Linked DNA regions of Homo sapiens. The protein of the gene in region 2 binds, or shares a complex with, the protein of the main gene of each other region. Each region holds a gene or a part of one and is shown on either strand. Other genes may lie near its edges. The genes, in order: EMD, BANF1 and LMNA. A codon is read from its position in the direction of its gene.

Evidence for each region.
Region 1: the proteins of BANF1 (region 2) and EMD are in contact, whole or in part, in a crystal structure (PDB 7NDY), measured with the Homo sapiens proteins. Residues at the interface, in NP_001137457.1 of Homo sapiens: Arg37, Phe39, Gln48, Val51, Leu52, Lys53, Asp55, Leu58, Glu61, Trp62, Asp65; in NP_000108.1 of Homo sapiens: Pro22 (codon at 1,294), His23 (codon at 1,291), Gly24 (codon at 1,288), Pro25 (codon at 1,285), Val27 (codon at 1,279), Ser29 (codon at 1,150), Thr30 (codon at 1,147), Arg32 (codon at 1,141), Leu33 (codon at 1,138), Tyr34 (codon at 1,135), Lys36 (codon at 1,129), Lys37 (codon at 1,126), Glu40 (codon at 1,117).
Region 3: the proteins of BANF1 (region 2) and LMNA are in contact, whole or in part, in a crystal structure (PDB 6GHD), measured with the Homo sapiens proteins. Residues at the interface, in NP_001137457.1 of Homo sapiens: Val11, Ala12, Glu13, Pro14, Glu83, Asp86, Ala87, Phe88; in NP_001393912.1 of Homo sapiens: Ser431, Gln432, His433, Ala434, Arg435, Met540, Lys542.

What each region holds. Positions count from the first base shown.
Region 1 is NC_000023.11:154,377,030-154,380,841, reverse strand, and holds the start of EMD (emerin), read right to left. Parts: upstream 1,548-3,812; 5' UTR 1,358-1,547; coding exon 1,276-1,357; intron 1,153-1,275; coding exon 1,048-1,152; intron 901-1,047; coding exon 823-900; intron 609-822; coding exon 475-608; intron 90-474; coding exon 40-89; intron 1-39. UniProt on the Homo sapiens protein: Stabilizes and promotes the formation of a nuclear actin cortical network. Stimulates actin polymerization in vitro by binding and stabilizing the pointed end of growing filaments. Inhibits beta-catenin activity by preventing its accumulation in the nucleus.
Region 2 is NC_000011.10:66,000,673-66,004,484, reverse strand, and holds BANF1 (barrier-to-autointegration factor), read right to left. Parts: upstream 1,983-3,812; 5' UTR 1,915-1,982; exon of another isoform or gene 1,415-1,914; intron 1,251-1,414; 5' UTR 1,235-1,250; coding exon 1,112-1,234; intron 860-1,111; coding exon 713-859; 3' UTR 336-712; downstream 1-335. UniProt on the Homo sapiens protein: Non-specific DNA-binding protein that plays key roles in mitotic nuclear reassembly, chromatin organization, DNA damage response, gene expression and intrinsic immunity against foreign DNA.
Region 3 is NC_000001.11:156,112,425-156,116,024, reverse strand, and holds the start of LMNA (lamin), read right to left. Parts: upstream 1,315-3,600; 5' UTR 1,107-1,314; coding exon 751-1,106; intron 1-750.

The DNA.
Region 1 (3,812 bases), on a different chromosome or scaffold from region 2:
CCCAGAACCAGCCCGTCCCTGGGCTCCCCCACTACGCACCTATCCTTGCACTCCTCTTCAGAAGAAGACAAAAGATCGTCATCATGCACCTGCAGAAGAGAGTCAGGGCGAGGGGACTGGCTGGCAGGGCCACCATGGCCCTGTCATGTCCCTCAGTCCAAACTTCCCCAGCCAGTCCCCTCTGACCTTTGGTTAGAGGCCAGGAACCCACACCCTCCTGAATGGCTCTGGGTGTTCAGCCCTTTATCCATGGGGCCTTGCCACTTGTGCTCATGCCCCAGCATCCCCTTTTGCCCCCAGGACTCTCAGGAAGAGTCTGAGCCTAGATCCCAGACCAGGGTGCTCTAGTCACACAGAGTCTCCCCGGAGGCCCAAGAGCCACCATTTGTACCCAGTGCCCCCCTGGATTTATCCAAACACAGCCGCGATCCCCTAGGTTGTACCCAAGTACAGGACGCCTGCCAGCCAGCTCACCTGGTGATGGAAAGCGTCAGCATCTGGGAATGAAGTCACTGACTGGCGGACAGCCCTGGACGGGCCGGCAGACTCGGGCTCCCCATAAGTCCTGGTGGTGAAGTAGCTCTCTTCATAGTAGTCGTCATTGTAGCCTTGGGAAGGGGGGCAGCGGTAGCAGAGGGGGCATCGGTGTGCCCCGCCTGGCCTGATGGCCCTAATCTGAATCCCATTTCGGGACCTGTAACAGTTTCTCCCTCCTAAGGCTGCTGGAGTGGTTGGGACTGAGGTCTCAGGTCCTCCCTGTGAGCGGGGTCCCTGACGAAGTCGGGTGAAGGTGCCAGCGTGCCCACCCAACCCCTGCCTTACCCTTGCTCTGGTAGAGTAAAGCGTCCTCTTTCTTGGGAAGATCATACATATCTGCATCCCCTCTAGTCGAATTCAAGTCTGGATTGAAAGGAGGAGACAGAACTGTTTGCCCCCCCAGACTTCCCTCCCCTTTCTCCAGTGCCGCTCTCGACCGGCCCCCCTGCCACACCCTCGCGACCCCATCCTCCCCGCGTCCCAGGCTGTCCCCACAGGCGAGGCTCTCACCAGAGAAGCTATAAGAGGAGGCGGCGGACGAGCTGGGGGGCGAGAGCCGCCGCCTCTGGGTCTCGTACTCGAAGATCTTCTTCTCGTAAAGCCTACGAGTTGATCCTGGCCGGACACGGGGCGGTCAGGGCCGCGGGCCGGGGAAGGCGCGCGGGGAGGGCAGCGGGGAGGTCGCGAGGCGGAGCACGAGGAGGGGGCCCGGAAGGGGTCCCGCCCGCCGCCGCGTACCTACTACAGGCCCGTGCGGGATGTTGTACCGGCGCAGCAAGGTGGTCAGCTCGGTATCCGAAAGATCTGCGTAGTTGTCCATGGCGGGTGCGGGCTCAGGCGGAGGCCTGGCGGCGGCCCGGGCCTACCAAAACCGGCCGAGCAACGGCTGCCGAGGAGCACGGCGGGGGCGGCACGAGCGCATCGGGAGCGGCCGCGCTCGCGTCACAGCCGAATCGTTGTCGCGTCACAGCCGAATCGTTGTCGCGTCACGGCCGCTGGCTCCGCAGGCTGCGCGCGCTGCGCGGGGCGGGACCTAACCGCGGGAGCAGCCGGCACAGACCGGCCGTGCCCTGAGAGCTGGGAGGCTGGGGCCGCGAGCCCAAACGTCATCAACGCGAGGATTGGCTAGCGGCGGAGAGGGCGGGGCCCGCCCGGGAGTCAGGGCGGTGGGAACCGGTCTCGCGATGGGAGCGGGCGGGGCCGCAAGCCCATATGTCACAAGCACGGGGATTGGCTAGTGATGGAGGGGGCGGGGCCCGCGCGGGCGCGGAGCAAAAGGTCTCGCGGTGGGAGCGAGCGGGGCCGCGAGCCCATACGTCACAAAACGGGGATTGGCTAGCGATGGAGGGGGAGGGGCCCGCGCGGGCGCGGAGCAGAAGGTCTCGCGGTGGGAGCGAGCGGTACTGCGAGCCCGGACGCCACTAATGCATGGATTGGCTAGCGGCGTAGGGGGCGGGGCCCGCGCGGGAGTCAGGGCAATGCAAACCGGTATCGCTGTGGGAGCAGGCGGGGCTGCGGGCCCAAAAGTCACAAACGCACAGATTGGCTAGCGGCAGGGGGCGGGGCCCGCGCGGGAGTCAGGGCGATGCGGCTGGGAGCCCAGACGTCACCCTGTGGCGTGCGGCGGGGTGAGAGGGGCGGGGCCTGCGCGCGAGGGACCCGGGACGTGCGAGCGGGCGAAGTCGGCGCTTGGGGTGGCTCTGGTCCCTAAGTCGCTTGGGCTTCGCCCGATCCCTGCACATCCCTACTCCCCGCCGTCGTCCCCCTTCCCAGGGCCCCAGAGCCTAGGGTTCCCCGGCCGCATCCCGGTCGGCCGCCCCAGCAGCGGCGGGAAGGGCCCGGACCCTAAGAGAGCGCGGGCCCCGGGCCAGGCGCTGCCGAGGGCGCTTTGTGTGCGCATCGCCCGGGAAGCGGCTGCAGGGCAAGGCCCGCGCCTACGCGATCCCCGCAGACCCCCTGCCATGGGCCCGCCTTCCCAGTCTGCGGGGCTCTCGCCCGCGCACATGTGCCTGCTGCTTACCACCGCCTACCCCTCTGCTTCCCTTCCTCCTCCCTCGCTCCACCCGGGAGGAAATGGGGCACTGGGCCAGGAGGCCGCTGGCACTCCAGAAGCAAGCAGTCTTCGAAGGGGCCCGGGCATGCCGACGGGCACGCCAGTGGGCGCGGGCAGAGGGCGCCGTGCGATGCGTGCAGAGACGACGTGTGCCCGCCTAACCCTTCATGCCGTTCATTCACCCGGGGCACTGGGGGGAGCTGAAGTGGGGCGTCCTCTCCTGTCGGAATGGTCCCTGAGCGCAGCGTGGCTAGGCAGGGGGCAGACGTGGGTGGCGAGCTATGGATTCCCATTCCCAGGGCCTTGATCAGATATTGGCTGTCTCATGGAGAAGAGAAAGGAGGTGACATTCATCATTCATATTCTTTTTTTTTTTTTTTTTTTTTTGAGACAGTCTCGCTCTGTCACCCAGGCTGGAGTGCAGTGGTGCAATCTTGGCTCTCTGTAGCCTCCACCTCCCGGGTTCAAGTGATTCTCCTGTCTCAGCCTCCCGAGTAGCTGGGAGTACAGTCACATGCCACCATGCCTGGCTTTGTATTTTTAGTATTTAGTATTTGTATTTTTAGTAGAAACAGGATTTCACCATGTTGGCCAGGCTGGTCTCGAACTCCTGACCTCAAGTGATCAGTCCGGCTCGGCCTCCCAAAGTGCTGGGATTACAGGCATAAGCCACCGCGCCTGGCTGTGACATTCACATTCTAAACAAAGCCAGCTGAGGGTGTATGGAATCAACTAGTGTGCCCCTCACTGGGTAGGCCCCAAACTGGGAGCATGAAGAGGTGACATGCCATCTGTAGTTTCACAGTTGAGGGCTGGTGACAAGGGAAGAAGAGGGGAGGGCTCTGGTCATGTCCAGAATGGCTGGCCTGGCTGGTGAGGGTCACAGACCAGTCATCCATGGAGGTTTGCCCATGGGGTGGGAAGAGGTAGACACCTGGGGGAGTAATGAGGAGATGGGGCCCTGTTTTGACTACACGCAAAGATCCTAACAAAGAGGAATCACTGTTGGCAAGGCCCCACTGTGTCCCCAGCAATATGGAAGGAAGTGTGGGTCCATGAAGACAGTGCCTGGCAGTGTGCAGCAGGAGAGCCTTGGGTAGGGCAGGGGTTTGCACCTCATCTTTCAGAGCTGAGGGGACAGATGGCAGTTTGGACTCTGGGCTGCTCAGAGGCTGCCTTGTGGATTTTTTAGTTTTGACAAAATCAGATTCCCCAGCACCTC
Region 2 (3,812 bases):
TCTCACCCACATCCGGCCCACCCTGTCTGGTACCTCTGACTCCCACTGACTTTTCCACCAGGTGCTGCCTAGCCCAGCTGTTGACTTAACTGACATCTGGAGCACAGTCCATCTGGCTCCCAGGAAAAGATCCACCCACACCCTCTCCCACATCACTCGGGGATTGAGACAAAAGTCACCTGCCTGAGGCCTACATGGCTAGGGTGGCTGCCCTCTGGGAGTGGAAGGGAAGCTGCCAGTTTCGGTCTCTACTGATAAGGAGTGAGGGAAACATGGTCAGTCCCTGAAGGAGAGGCAACTCCCAGCCCACTTGCTTTTCAGTGCACAAAGCCCAGTCATGAAAGCCACTGACTTTATTGATCTAAAAAACTTTACAAGGACAGTGACTGTTCTGCCAAAAAAGGAGCCAAATGGTATCAAACGGATTGAAAGTGAGGGTGGGGGTGAGGGATGGGGCCGGGAATCCATTCAGGAAAGCTGGTAACTGTCACCAGGGAACTGGCAAGGGAAAAAGGACGGGGGAGGCATGCAAGAGCGAGAATCCAAAAAAAAGTTGAAATGGTTAGGGGAGAAAACTCCCAAAAGACCCCGGAGTACGTCGGAGGTGAGTACGACAATAGCAATCTTTTCCTTCGTAGAGGACAGGGGAGGAGTCCCTACTCGGCTGCAAACTCTGGATGAGGGCTGGGGATTGAGAGCTTCCCAGAGAGCATCACAAGAAGGCGTCGCACCACTCTCGAAGGCATCCGAAGCAGTCCCGGGACTGCTTGGCGTTGGCGCCACAAGTGTCTTTCAGCCATTCCCGGAAGAGGTCTTCATCTTTCTTTAGCACCAGAAACTGGCCAAGGACAACATAGGCCTGCAAAACAGGGAAAAGGAAGGAGCGTGCTGCTCAGTGCTCAGTGAGAGATAAGAGCAAGACAGCCATTCCTGTGCCATTCAGAGCACACAAGCCCAGGAAGCAGCGCGGGTTTTGCCCCCCTCTCCTCTCCACCAGGTGCCCAGGCTCTGGCAGCCTCTTCAGATTATACCTTACTGTCCATCCCCCAGCAGATGGAATCACTTCCCTTCCACCCCCCGCTTGCACTAGGTACACGCAGCCACCCCACACCTTGTCAAAACCCCTTTCCTCCAGCTTCTTGCCCAGGACTTCACCAATCCCAGCCAGGCTCCCCACTGGCTTCTCCCCCATGGGCTCTGCCACGAAGTCTCGGTGCTTTTGGGAGGTTGTCATCTTGATCAGGCTTAATCTAGGAATCCCAAAAAAAAGGCAGATTAGGGCTGAAGACCTGGAACTTCTAAGGGCCCACGAGCAATCTCATAGTAAGAGGAAGCCAAGCCAGGGGTTACAGTGGCTTGCTCGATCCCCCTCATCCTGAAAGGAGAAAACAGTTCCAGGGAGACTCTTCCCTACTATTTTTAAGAGGAGTTTCTTCCTGCAGGACCTGGATTTTGATCTTGCCCCAGAGGAAAAACGATCCTGCCTAACAGGTGGCGCAAGCGGGGCAGTGGAAAGATGCCCAGAGTCCGTAGCCAGGGCTGCGCGGAAGCTATCACTCCCTCTGTGACCTTGGCTGAACCAAGACGACACTGCCTGCCTGGAACGGCCACTTGGCGTGGAAAGCTAACCAAAGGGTCTCTCTACCTACAGGGCGAAGCGCACACCTAGCGCTGCGCACACCCGCTCCCCGCCCGCGGGGTTCACGCCGCGCCCCAGCTCCGCCCCCACCGCGCGCCGCTGCGGCCCGCCCCTTCCCGCGGCCCGGCTCCCACGCGCTGCACCCCGCCCCCTCCCCGCAGCGCGGCCAAGCTCTCCCCCAGGGCCCGCCACAGCGCCTGCGACCCCTCTCCTCCCCTTCTCCCCGCAACCCCTCTGGCCTCCAATCAGGGCCCTGCTCCGCGGCTGGCGCTCACCCGCAACTTCAGTTCCCGTAACGGTTCCTCCCGCCACCCGGCCGCTCCTGCGGATACCTCAAGCCACTAGAACTTTCTTCCACTTCCGCTTCCGGGTCGCTTCAAGAGCCGCCTTTAAAAAAGAAACATTCCACGTTGGGCACTTCTAGCCAGTTAGAGCTATAGAGTTGAGGCGCCCCGGACCTCGACGGCGTCCTTAGTAGGCGCTCCTTTCCGGTCCTTCGCGGGAAGCCCTGCCTTCTAAGGTCTCGCTTCTCGCGCAGTTCTGAGGGAGATAGGCCTCCAGGGAGAGGACTTCCTTTCTCTGCTGCCCGGACCCGGAACTCAAGGACTTAGGCTTGACGGACCTGGCGTGGGGAAGAGTTAGAAGACGGACAAGGGAGGGGACGGGAGGCCTCCGAGACAGCGCCGGAAGTACGGTTTTCGGAGGGATCAGACTCAGACTCACGTCGCACTCCTCGCAGTTGGACTGGTGGGAACTGGGAACACTGGAGACCTGATTTCTAACTGACGCTACCGTCGCGGCCGCCGGCAAGTTCCTTTACTGTGTTTTCTTGGTTCAGCCTTGAAGTGAGTCGTGGACGATCCTCTCTCAGCGTCCAGCCTAGACGGCGGTGTTGCTCCGGCAGCGTTCCTGGGAGCCGAGGGCCAGAGACTAAGTGTGGGTGTTTCTCTGAGGGTCTTTTCTCCGGGATAGACAGGGAGGAGGAAGGAGGACAGCAACTAGAGACGACAGTGTTTCTTTCGGAAACCATCAGTCTTAAGGGTACTGGCCTTCGTCTTCTAAGTACGCAAGTCAGAAATATGCAAATGTCGCAGACAAGCCTGCTCACCTCAACCTTTAATTAACTAGTTCCTGGCTTGAACCATCACGGTGGCCACCTAGTTTGTCTCCGGCTGTAGTGTGTTGCCAGACTGAACTTCTCTGTTGTGTGACTATGCTAGACTTGGGGTGTACAAGCGTGTTGAGAAAGATACGGTTTATTTCAAACTCCTTCCAGAGAGGTTGCCAGGATGACTTCTCTGGAGCATGCGTATAGTTTTATATTACACTAGTACTTAAGATTATAGGAGTTACTTTTTTTTTTTTTTTTTTTTTGAGACGGAGTCTTGCTCTGTCGCCCAGGCTGGAGTGCAGTGGCGCGATCTCGGCTCACTGCAAGCTCCGCCTCCCGGGTTCACGCCATTCTCCTGCCTCAGCCTCCCGGGTAGCTGGGACTACAGGCGCTCGTCATCACGCCCGGCTAATTTTTTGTATTTTTGTAGAGAGAGGGTTTCACCGTATTAGCCAGGATGGTCTCGATCTCCTGACATCGTGATCCGCCCACCTCGGCCTCCCAAAGTGCTGGGATTACAGGCGTGAGCCACCGCGCCCGGCCGGAGTTACTTTTACATGACATGCATTGTATTGTCCCATTCTGTTGTAGCAGGACGAGTCGCAGACAGAACTCCTCAGACACCAGATTAAAGAAGGAAGAGGTTTTTTTATTCGGCCGGGAGCGTCGGCAGACTCGTGTCTTAAGAGCCGAGCTCCCCGAAAAAGAAATTCCTAGCCCTTTTAAGGGCTTACAACTCTAAGGGGTCTACGTGAAAAAGTCATAATAGATCAAGTAAGCGTGAGAAACGTGACTGGGGGCTACATACATCAGCTAACAGAACAAAAAGTTTTACAGTGCTTTCTCATACAATGTCTAGAATTTACAGATAACACCAGTAGTTTTGGTCAGGGGTTAATAATATTATTATTATTTTAGCCACCAGGGCCAGGTGGTGGTGCCAAGGTCGTCTAGCTATTTATCTTACTTCTGTTTCTTTCCAACTTTTTGCTTTCTCCCTTTTCTCCTGTCTTATAAACTAGGGAAAAGGGGAGGTTGGAGAGAAACTAAGAAGGCCAACAG
Region 3 (3,600 bases), on a different chromosome or scaffold from region 2:
GGCCAAGCAGGCCAAGGGCTGTGGGAGCTGCGGGGGAGCCGATCTCTCATCTCCCGGAGCTCTTTTGGTGGGCCTGTCAGAGCCCAAGGAAGGTCCCAGACACGCAGAGTGGCAGAGTGAGGGAGAACTTCCCAACCCTTAGAACCCAGGACAAGGTCATGCTGAGGGGGGGCCACCGCCAAGCCCTTGGGAGGGAAAAGGGGGATTGCCCTGCCTTCCTGACCTCGCTCCAACACGCTGGACAGATGCCAACTTGAGAGTTATGTCTTAGTGGGCATCATGTGTTCAGAGCCAGCTTGGGCAAAGCTAGCACAGTGCCAAGCCCGCTAACAAAGTTCTAACAGGACCCTTTCTGCCACTCCGATGTGTCCTGGGTGCCCAGAGTTCTTCGAGCTGGCAGGGCTAGTTCTGTTTTGCTCAAGCCCCTCCCCCCGGCTCCAAATAGTTGGCAAATCCCAATCTGACCGAATTCAGGCCGGCCCCAGCCCCAACTTGTCCCTGATACCCCCACCATTCCTTATATCCTCCCCGACCCTCTCCCAGAGACCACCACTTCCCTCTCTGTCCTGTCTTGACAATTCCCCTTGACACTGCCAGTCACCCGCTGGGGGCAGTTCCGGGGAGGGAGGAGACTATGGCAAAGTTATCGGCCTCCAGGCCCTCTCACTCCCTTCCTGCGGCCGGCCAGGGGCGCCGGCCCGCCGCCCTCTCCACTCCCCGCCAGGCACGCAGCCACCTGGGCGAACTCACCGCGCTTTCAGCTCCTTAAACTCCTCACGCACTTTGCTCAGCTCCAGCTGCAGGCGGGCGCGCTCCTTGGCTACTGAGTCAAGGGTCTTGCGGGCATCCCCGAGCTCGGCCTCGTAGGCGGCCTTGATGCCGGACACCTCGCGGCTGACCACCTCTTCAGACTCGGTGATGCGAAGGCGCAGCCCTGCGTTCTCCGTTTCCAGCGAGCGCACACGGTCGATGTAGACCGCCAAGCGATCATTGAGCTCCTGCAGGTCCTCCTTCTCCTGCAGCCGGGTGATGCGGGTGGGCGACAGCGGAGTGGAGCTGGCCTGCGCCCCGCTGCGGGTGGCGCGCCGCTGGGACGGGGTCTCCATGGCCGGCAGGTTGGCAGCGCTGCCCGCGGGGCAGGGGTCCCGGAAAGGGCGCGGGGCTCGGGTCGAAGGACAGAGACTGCTCGGAGTCGGAGTGCGCCGGCCGGCTGGCTCTCGGCTTGCTCCTGGCAGGCGTGGGGATCTGGGCCGGGCGCTGTCGGACCTCGGGATCTGGGTTGGCTGGTGTAGGTGCGGCGCTCCCGCGAACACTGAGTCACCGACGCCGGGGCAAAGGCTCTAATAGGTCCTCCTCTGAAGGGAGGAGGGGCCACTACTCTTAAAGGGGCAGTCCCAGATCCATTGGGGGTGGGGGCGGGAGTGGTGAGGAGGGGGAAGGACCGTTGGGGTGTGGCGGAGTCGGGCCCCACCCTCTCCAGCGCACCCCTAACTGCGTGAGGCTCAAGCTTCCCCTCTCTTGGCTCCTGCCTGCTCAGCACTGTCGGCTCCAAGCTTGCCCCCATTGCCTCAGACCTTCTGGGCTAGAGGGCAGAGCCAAGGAGGGAGAGTGGGTGGGCAAAAGGGTCGGGGAGAAAGAGAGGGAAGTGGGCGCAAAGCAAGGGAGAGGGTCAGGTAGGCAGGGCTGGGAGCCAGGAAAGTGGGGGGAGGGCTGAGGCTGGTGCCCATCAGTGTGACTCACCCTTCTTCCACCACTGGCTCCCCCTGTCCTCCCAGTAGTAATAGTGAGTCACCCCAACCCCCCTCCACACGTGGGCAGCCCATTCAGAGCTGCATCTCAGTGTGCCAGGAGTGGGGTGGAGAAGGAATGCCTGGGTTCCCTGGGGGGAGCAAAGTTCTGGAACCTGAGTTCCTTTATGCCCCCAGTTTGGGGCCAGGGATCAAGGAGTTTGGGGGGTCCCTTTTTTTCTTTCTTTTGCCCCAATCTATCTCTCTTCAAAGCCAAGCATTCGTTTTTAGACCCAAGCAACAAGCCACAGTCCCCTAAAGAAGTCCCCTAAAGAAAGCCAAGAATAGGAGCCAGGCACTGCCCCTTCCATCTCCTGTCCCCTTCCTTTGGACCCAAGCACTGCCTGGGTTCCTTCCCCCTTCAGTCCCTTTCTACTGCTTACCGCACCCAGTCAACTTATTTTTTTCCCCCAGAACTGTACTTATTTTAATGGATAATTTAAAACAGATACCAGAGCTGTGCATGCATTCATTACGTTGCCAAGACACTAGGTCCCAGATTTCTGTGGTTCCCAGAGGGGCCTGAAAGGGGAAGCAGGGCTGGGGGCTGGACAGCCAATATTGGGTCTCTATCCTGGTTTCAGCCAGAAAGAAGGTAGTGGGGGGCAAGAAGGTAGTGGGGGACAGGAACAGCAAAGACCCCACAGCCTTGCTGGCTGCAAAGGCCAGCACCATACTCATCTCTACTTTCCTCTCTGGCCAGGTCCATTCTGCAGCTGGCTCTGGGGAGGGGCCAGGCTCTCTCACAAAACGAGATCACTCAGGTCCCCAGGGTTCGCTACCTCAGGCTCTGGAGCCTCCATCCTCAGGCCTCACCAAGGACCCTTTTGATAAGCCTTCCACTCCCCTCCCCTCATCCTGGCCCCTATCCTGGTCCCACCATCCACCTCATCCTCTGTTTGTTTGTTTTTTTTGTTTGTTTGTTTGTTTTTTTGAGATTAAGTCTTGCTCTCTCACCCAGGCTGGAGTGCAGTGGCATGATCTCAGCTCATTGCAATCTCCACCTCCCGGGTTCAAGAGATTCTCCTGCCTCAGCCTCCTGAGTAGCTGGGATTATAGGCACCTGCCACCAAGCCCAGCTAATTTTTTTTTTATTTTTATTTTTAGTAGAGATGGGGTTTCACCATGTTGGCCAAACTGGTCTCAAACTCCCGACCTCAGGTAATCTGCCTGCCTCAGCTTCCCAAAGTTCTGGGATTACAGATGTGAGCCACCATGCCCGTCCCACCTTATCCTCTCTAAGAGGTGACAGCATTGAGGCCTGGGTCCCATCTGCCTGCATGCCCTGCCCAACTGCCTCCCACAGCTTATCCTCCGATGAGCAACCAGGGAAATCAAATTATGTTGCTACCTTGTACAGCTCCAAGATATCAGGGCTTCCCTCAAACACAAGGAAAGCAGGGCTGGACAGGCCCTCAGTTCTGGGTTCTGAAGCCTGGCCTCGGGGTGGATGAGGGACTGGAGTGGGATTAAGGCAGGAACTTTGGTTATTAGGGGAGGGGAACAAGGAAAGTTCTCATCTCAGTGAGGGTGCCTGGGCAGCATGGTGAGCACTAGGGATGCACCCGGATGAGGGGGCCCAGAATATGGCTTCTCTCCCCCAGGGCGTGGCACCCACCCTCAGCTTCCCAGACAATAAAAAGTCTTGTTCTTCTCCACACCAGAAGCAGAGGCAGGAGGGGTAAGCCAGTGAAACGTGAGGGAAGGGTTCATGCTGTTCCCACTGCCTCAGCCCCTCCCTGGCACTCAGTGCCCCCTTTTCCCCTACCCAGCTGCTTGGCCTGGCTTCCTTTCCAGGCTGGGAAAGCTAAAC